Homo sapiens: one gene and its partner. The main gene of each other region encodes a partner of the protein of the gene in region 2 in a complex. Each region holds a gene or a part of one and is shown on either strand. Other genes may lie near its edges.

Region 1 (3,816 bases), about 39 Mb from region 2:
TAAATTTCCCACTTATTTTGTTTGTTGAATATCAACCATATTATAAACTCTCTTGGCCCCCAAATTTATCTTTTTTTTTTTTTGAGACGGAGTTTCGCTCGTCACCCTGGCTGGAGTGCAATGGCGCGACGTCAGTTCACGGCAACCTCCGCCTCCCAGGTTCAAGCTATTCCCCTGCCTCAGCCTCCCGAGTAGCTGGGACTACAGGCCTACGCCAACACACCCACCTAATTTTGTATTTTTAGTAGAGACGGGGTTTCTCCATGTTGGTCAGGCTGGTCTTGAACTCCTGACCTCATGTGATCCGCCAGCCTCAGCCTCCCAAATTGCTGGGATTACAGACGTGAGCCACCCTGCCCGACCCAAAATTTATCTTTCAACATTCTGTTCCTAATCTAATAAATGTAAGCTTCAACTATGGTCCCTAGACAATTATCCTACAAACCTTCGTTTCCAGGTGTATTATCTCCTAAACTTACAAATGACTCCTAAATCTGGCCATTCTGACCTTTCCAACTCATTAGGACAAGTTAGAAACTATTACTTTTTCTTACATCCAGCGTTACCTATCTTAGCGCCATCACATTCCCAGTTACTTGGGCTGATGACTGCAAACACATGTAAGGTGTACTTTATATACGTGGGTCTTTATATGCTTTCTCACTGAATCCTCACAGCAAGCCTACACGATGGCTAAAAAGAAATGATCCCATAGCTGGGGGAGATTAAGCCAAATACTTTCCAGGACACCAGGCCTTTAACATCTGCCCCAACCTAGCTTTCTAATCTCACCTCTTCTGTAAACATACTACTATTCTCCAACCCAAAAGAACTACTATACTCAATATACACTCGGGCAAGATCTCTAAACCTCTGTCCTGACTTTTCCTTCCAGATTTTTCTATTTCAACTCGATTTCTCTTAATCTTAACTCTAAAAAGCAAACATTTTCCTCCAATTTTATAAGTGAATCTTTGGCACAGAGGTTACAGGTCACTAAGACATGAAGTAACGGAAGCAGAGAATGAAACTCTGGTCTTCCTGATTTCCAACGTGTGCCACACACTTCCACAAAAAAAACAAATAATTGTTTCTTGATTTGCCTATGTTTCACTGCACATGCGGAGACGACATCAACGTAACTTTTCCGCAACTATTTCAAACACGACACGTAAGTCGGTTCCCACATCCATCCCAGTACAATGGGCCCCGCCCCAATTTAGACTCGGAGAGTTCACCCAATTCGTCTCAACAGTTGTGCCAAGTGAAGTTTATTTAATAGTTCTTTAAATAAGAATAACAAAGCTGAAAGATACTGTGCATTCTACCAGTTCCAATAAGCAATAAGCGACAGCCCTCAAGCGTCAGATCCCTAGTGAAGACTGCATGCAATCCTCGGCATTTTGAACTGCTTTCGGCTCCAATATGAATGATGCACAGTGCAGGATGAAAAACTAAGGGAGATTAAGATGCAAAATGGGGCAAGTCCAAAGGCCTCCATACTCCGGGTTGGCGATCATCGGCAGAAAAACAGAAATAAGGATCCCTCCACTGGGCTGCTTCTATAGGGAGGACAAGAGAGGATCACCCGAAGAAATGGGAAATGAGCCAAACCCGCTCAAGCCCACGATGAGAGCGCAGAGCACAACCCCGCGGCGCCGCGGGTCAGGCCATGAGAGTGATACCTTTGGCGGCGGAAATGTTGCTGAAGCGGATCTGGGCTGGCTTGTCGCGGTCCTGATAGGCGCCTTTCCCGCGGCCGCCGGCAGCCCCGGCAGTCGCCCCGCTCCGGGGTGCCACATTCTCGGGCATGGCAAACTCCGCTGTGTCTGGGTTGGCTCGGGAAGGACGGATGGACCCGGATTCTGGCCGGCCGCAGTGTAATAACGGTAAGCCCTCACTGCCTTCACGAACCTTCCAGAAAGCGGCGCCGGCGTCGGGAGGAGGCGGAGGCGGAGAAGGGGGCCTTCCTTGCCGCGCGGCGCTGGCGTGACGTAGGAGGCTGTCCGCTGCGCGCCGGGCGAGGAGGATGCGTGCGGTGGGCTCCGGGCTGGCGAGATTGTACGCCCGGGGCGCTGTGGGTGAAGAGCGCCGGGGGAACCTTTACGCGAGGCAGCAATGACAACGCGCGATTTTAAAGGCGAGTGGTGAGGACATCCGCATTTCCTCACTCCACCTTGCACGGCTATGAGGTCCCCTCCTTTTTTTTTTTTTTTTTTTCTTTTTTTGGATACAGTCTCACTCTGTTGCCCAGGCTGGAGTGCAGTGGCGCAAAATCTCGGCTCACTGCAGCCTCCGCCTCCCAGGTTCAAGCGATCCTCCTCAGCCTCCCGAGTAGCTGGGATTACAGGCGTCCGCCACCATGCCCAGCTAATTTTTGTATTTTTAGTAGAGACAGGGTTTCACCATGTTGGCCAGGCCGGTCTCGAACTCCCGACCTCAGGTGATCCACCCGCCTCGGGCTCCCAAAGTGTTGGGATTACAGGCGTCAGCCACGAAGCCCGGCCTTTTTTTTTTTTTTTTTTTTTTTTGACAGAGTCTCGCTCTGTCGTCCAGGCGGGAGTGCAGTGGGGCGATCTTGGCTCACTGCAGCCTCGACCTCCGGGGCCCAAGCGATCCTCCCGCCACAGCCTCCCAACTAGCCAGGACGACAGGTGCCCGCCACCATGCCTAGCGAATTTTTGTATTCGAAACATAGCGAGACTGGGTTTCGCTGTGTTGCCCAGGCTGGTCTGACCTCCCCGGCTCAAAGCGGTCCACCCTCCTCAGCGTTTCAAAGTACTGGGATTACAGGCGTGAGCCACCGCGCCCACCCGGAGGTGCCCTCCTTTAACTCCGGCTGGATCTATCCGCGAGGTGGGGTGGGCGCCGGAATAACTCTCTAAGGGATATGACTGAGTCTGTTTTTGCCCGGCCACATAGACCTGCATTTTATGCAGTTTTGTTCATTTTGAAAGGGAGTCAGAAAAGGGAGATTTGGAATGAGGCGAGGTTAGTTATCTCGTATTGGTTGATACTGGGTGGTGGAGGTTTGACAGACTGCCAAATCAGGTCTGTCTAGTTACCACCGCCCGCTTGTTCTACACTAGTGTCTCCTGCATGACGTAGCCACTGACTCTTAGGGAACGTAAACATTATAATAAAGATCATTTATTTCCGTTATCTGCTAAGCACAGTGCTAAACCTTTACACGTTTTATATCTCGTTTAGTCCTCACAATAATCCTTTACTTAAAAGGTGAGAGAACTGGAGCCCAAAGAAGGAACTGAAGCCCAGGGTAAACGAGTCAGTAGATAGAAGCAGTATTCCAATACAAAGCAAGGACCAGAAGCCATGAGCTAAACTGCTGGTCTCCTATGACCACTATATTTCAGTAGGGAAGTTTATGAAATGAGGTTTGTTGAATGTTCGCTCACAATTATTAAGCACCTGCAAAGTGACAGTTGCGTGTGGTAGGTTCAGAAACAAATGTTCAAAGGTACTTAATCTTGTAATTATGAGGTGGTGGTGGTGTTGTTTGTTTGTTTGTTTTTGTTTGTTTTTGAGACGGAGTTTCACTCTTGTTGCCCAGGCTGGAGCAGTGGCACCATCTCGGCTCACCGCAACCTCCGCCTCCCGGGTTCAAGCGATTCTCCTGCCTCAGCCTCCCCAGTAGCTGGGATTACGGGCATGCACCACCATGCCCGGCTAATTTTGTATTTTTAGTAGAGACGGGGTTTCTCCATGTTGGACAGGGTGGTTTCGAACTCCCGAGCTCAGGTGATAGGCCCGCCTCGGCTTCCCAAAGTGCTAGGATTGCAGGCTTGGCGAGAGCCA
Region 2 (3,600 bases):
CTGACAGAATTCTCTAATGGCCAAACCTGAGAGGAAAAGCTGAGACGTCTCAGAGTAGCTCATAAAATACAGGGCACTCTAAGCCCTTTTTCTTGTACCTTGTCCCTGAATCCTCACAAGCCTAGGAGAGGCACGGCATTTAGAGGCACTGCCATGCTAGAACGGCTGGCCAAATCAGCCAGCATCAAAATCACAAAGGATCATTGTCACAAAGACTGATGTAAAAGTGGCTCTTAGATCTAGAACCCAGCTGCCCAAGCACCGGTTTGCATGGTGTGGCAAGAACACTGCTAATGGAGCTCAGGCTTGCTTTGGAATATGAAATCAGGAGCACTGTGAAAAGGGCACCGGGATAATCGGTCTCCAACCCCAACCCTGTGTAACAGTTCTGAGATACATCAAAAGAAAAATGAGGCCGGGCGCGGTGGCTCATGCCGATAATCCCAGCACTTTGGAAGGCCTAGGCGGGCAGATCACCAGGTCAGGAGATCGAGACAATTCTGGCTAACATGGTGAAACCTTGTCTCTACTAAAAATACAAAAAATTACCCGGGAGTGGTGACGGGCGCCTGTAGTCCCAGCTACTCAGGAGGCTGAGGCAGGAGAATGGCGTGAACTGGAGAGGCGGAGCTTGCAGTGAGCCGAGGTCGCGCCACTGCACTCCAGCCTGGGCGACAGAGCAAGACTCTGTCTCAAAAAGAAACAAACAAACAAACAAACAAAAAGAGCAGAATCCTTTCTACAGGGTGGTCAGGGAAGGCCTCAAGGGACCTGAAGGACAGGGAATGCAAAGGAGGCCAGGGCAGCCCTCAAGCTACCACTTCACCATTTAAGAGTGTCTAGGCCAGGTGCGGTGGCTCATCCTGTAATCCCAACACTTTGGGAGGCTGAGGCTGGGCAACATAGGGAGACCCCATCTGCACAAAAAATTAGCCCAGAGTGGTGGGTGCACGCCTGTGGTCCCAGCTACTCCGGAGGCTGACAAGGGAGGATGGCTTAGCCCCGGGAGGTCGAGGTTGCAGTGAGCTGTGACAGAGCCACTGCACTCCAGCCTGGGCAACAGAGCAAGACCCGGTCTCAAAAAAAAAAAAAACAGTGTCTGGCTCCTGGCAGACACGCCCTCCCCTCCAGCCCCTAATGCCTCCCTCCCCAGCAAAACCCGCACCCTCTCCTCTCCATCTGCCACTAAGCAGAGATTAGAATTTCTGACCACTGCGGGATCTTTGGACAGTGACAAAATTTAGTTGGCATAGGTTTTCACCCACAATAGTGCCCATTTCCATGGTGTTTTCATTCATTCTCCTTAGGCTTTAACCAAATTCCGCTAGTAAATTGCAGCTACAGAAAAATAATTTATTTTACCTATTTTAATAAAAAAAAAAAAAAGGACGAAACAGAGGGACCCTCGCGGGGAGCTCTGGAACCCGAGCGGTCAGATAGGGAACACGCCCCAAGCGGATCCCAGGGCTCGGGGGAAGAGGGTGTAACTAAGCCCTCACCTGGCTCTCAGTGGAGCCAGGAACACCGGCTGTGGCGCTGCTTTACGTGCGGAAGACCCCAGGCCGGACCCTCCGCTTCCTAACACCTCTGCCCAGGTGTGCCTTAGGGGAGTTCAGGAGAGGAGGTAACTTTTGTTAGGCGGGATCCGGCAAGACCTTCACAGGCCCGGGTGGGTAGAGACCGCGAGAAGACATAGTCCCGGAGGACGAGGTTTGGGGGACCCGGCACACCGAGGCGGGGACGCCCAGGCCGTGGGTCCTGGTGGGACCACGCCCGCCTCCCGCACTGCGCCTGCGCAGGGCCTGGACGCGCCGGGCCTCCCTCGTGCCTGCGGCGCCGGAGCTTCCCCCAGGGCGGGCGTCCACTGCCCGCCCGGGCCTAACGAGACAAAGGAACGGGCCGCAGCCCCCAGACCCGAGACCCGTCCTAGCTCACCTGCATCTTGTTTCCAGTTCAGTTGCTCAAACCAGCTGTGCCGCAGCGCCCCCGCCCCTCAGCTCTCTTTTGTGCACGCGCACAGCGCCGCCACGCCTCTTCCCCCAGCCCAGCCTTCGCCCCGCCCAGGGACGAGCGGCGGGGAGTAAGGGCGGAAGCAACAGCCTTGAGTCTGCGCCTGCTCTTCAAGGAACTGGCACAGAAGCGTTCGCATGCGCCAGATAGGATCTGCCTACTGTCCTGCTCGGAGTGCACTTGACCTGGTTCTAATTCTGGTGGCTGCCTTATTAGGGCTGGTCTTCAGCGGAGGAGGGGTGGGGCTGGGTGGAGGAGGAGCCCGGGGCCGTGTGCCTTTTCCAGCTGCCGGCCCAAACCTGTAAAGACGTCTCGCTCTGACTAGCCTAACAAGTCAGAAATAGAAAATTGCCTCTAGGCCGGGCGCGGTGGCACACGCCTGTGATCCCAGGCCGAGGCGGGCGGATCACTTGAGGTCAGGAGTTCGAGATCAGCCTGGCCAACATGGTGAAACCCCGTCTCTACTAAAAATACAAAAAAATTAGCCGGGCGTAGTGGTGGTTGCCTGTAATCCCAGCTACTCTGGAGGCTGAGGCAGAAGAATTGCTTGAACGGGGGAGGCGGAGCTTGCAGTGAGCTGAGATCTCTCCACTGCACTCCAGCCTGGGTTACAGAGCGAGACTCCGTCTTAAATAAATAAATAAATAAAAATGATGCAGGGTCTTCTGGAATTCACCCACGATCACTTCAGCCTTGGAAAAGGCAACTCATTAATAAGACATTGAGAGCCTGCTGTGTACCAGGCACCATTCTAGGCTCTGCAGATGCAGCAGTGAGCAAAACACTAAAACAAAGGTGAAAGTCATCTGCCGTGCCTGAGTATCAGGAGACCCATGTATGCAGGCACACAGGCACTGAGCAAAAAGCAGCAATCTGACTTGTAAAATGCAGGTATTGGGCTCCAGAGCTTCTGCCCAGGCACACTCCAAGTTTAAGAGAGCAATATTCCTACCTGGTATGGAAGGAAGCATCTTGCACACGTGGGCTAACTTGCTGCCTCCTGGCAACTAAGCGGACACAGAGAGTAGAGACCCACACACCTGTGAGATAGGCGCAGGGCTTCCAACCGTGGCTATGCATTAGAATCACCTGGAAGCCCTCAAAAACTAGGAATGTCCTGGGGCTCCATCCCCAGACAAATTAAATCCTTGGAAATGAGGCCTAGCACAGATACTTTCTTAAAGATCCTCAGGTGATGCTAAAGTGCACAGTCGTTGATATAGAGTGAATCAAATGATTGCTTGAGAGCAAGGAGTTTTTATTTAATTTATAAGGATCCTTAAGATTTTTCTCACTCATTTCAACTGAATTACAGGCCCTTTTAGGGATTTATTAATGTATCTGGCAGCACAATGTTTGTTAATGAATTTTCCTTGGGTCTTACCACCAAAATCAGGACTGGAACTAACTTTGAGTTTGATCCTGTGCTTCTTGCTCAGTCCTGCACAGCAACAGAGCAGGTGGTGTTTTGTCCTTTCCTCATCCCCAGCCTTTGCTGTTCCCTGAGGCCTGTTTTCCAGGACTCAGCTATTCTACAGTTGCTCTTCCCCACATGATCCGGTCAGAGGCATTCTAACCAAAGCCAATCCA

Evidence for each region. Proteins that work in one complex are often made in the same cells at the same time.
Region 1: the proteins of PDCL3 (region 2) and CCT4 are in contact, whole or in part, in a cryo-EM structure (PDB 8I9Q), measured with the Homo sapiens proteins. Residues at the interface, in NP_076970.1 of Homo sapiens: Ala70, Ile71, Tyr74, Arg75, Arg78, Leu79, Trp82, Lys86; in NP_006421.2 of Homo sapiens: Val266, Gln271, Met272, Leu276, Glu279, Arg280, Leu312, His315.

The regions. Positions count from the first base shown.
Region 1 is NC_000002.12:61,886,696-61,890,511, forward strand, and holds the start of CCT4 (T-complex protein 1 subunit delta), read right to left. Parts: upstream 1,962-3,816; 5' UTR 1,813-1,961; coding exon 1,686-1,812; intron 1-1,685. UniProt on the Homo sapiens protein: Component of the chaperonin-containing T-complex (TRiC), a molecular chaperone complex that assists the folding of actin, tubulin and other proteins upon ATP hydrolysis.
Region 2 is NC_000002.12:100,561,409-100,565,008, reverse strand, and holds the start of PDCL3 (phosducin-like protein 3), read right to left. Parts: upstream 2,017-3,600; 5' UTR 1,942-2,016; coding exon 1,936-1,941; intron 1,705-1,935; exon of another isoform or gene 1,500-1,704; intron 1-1,499. UniProt on the Homo sapiens protein: Acts as a chaperone for the angiogenic VEGF receptor KDR/VEGFR2, increasing its abundance by inhibiting its ubiquitination and degradation.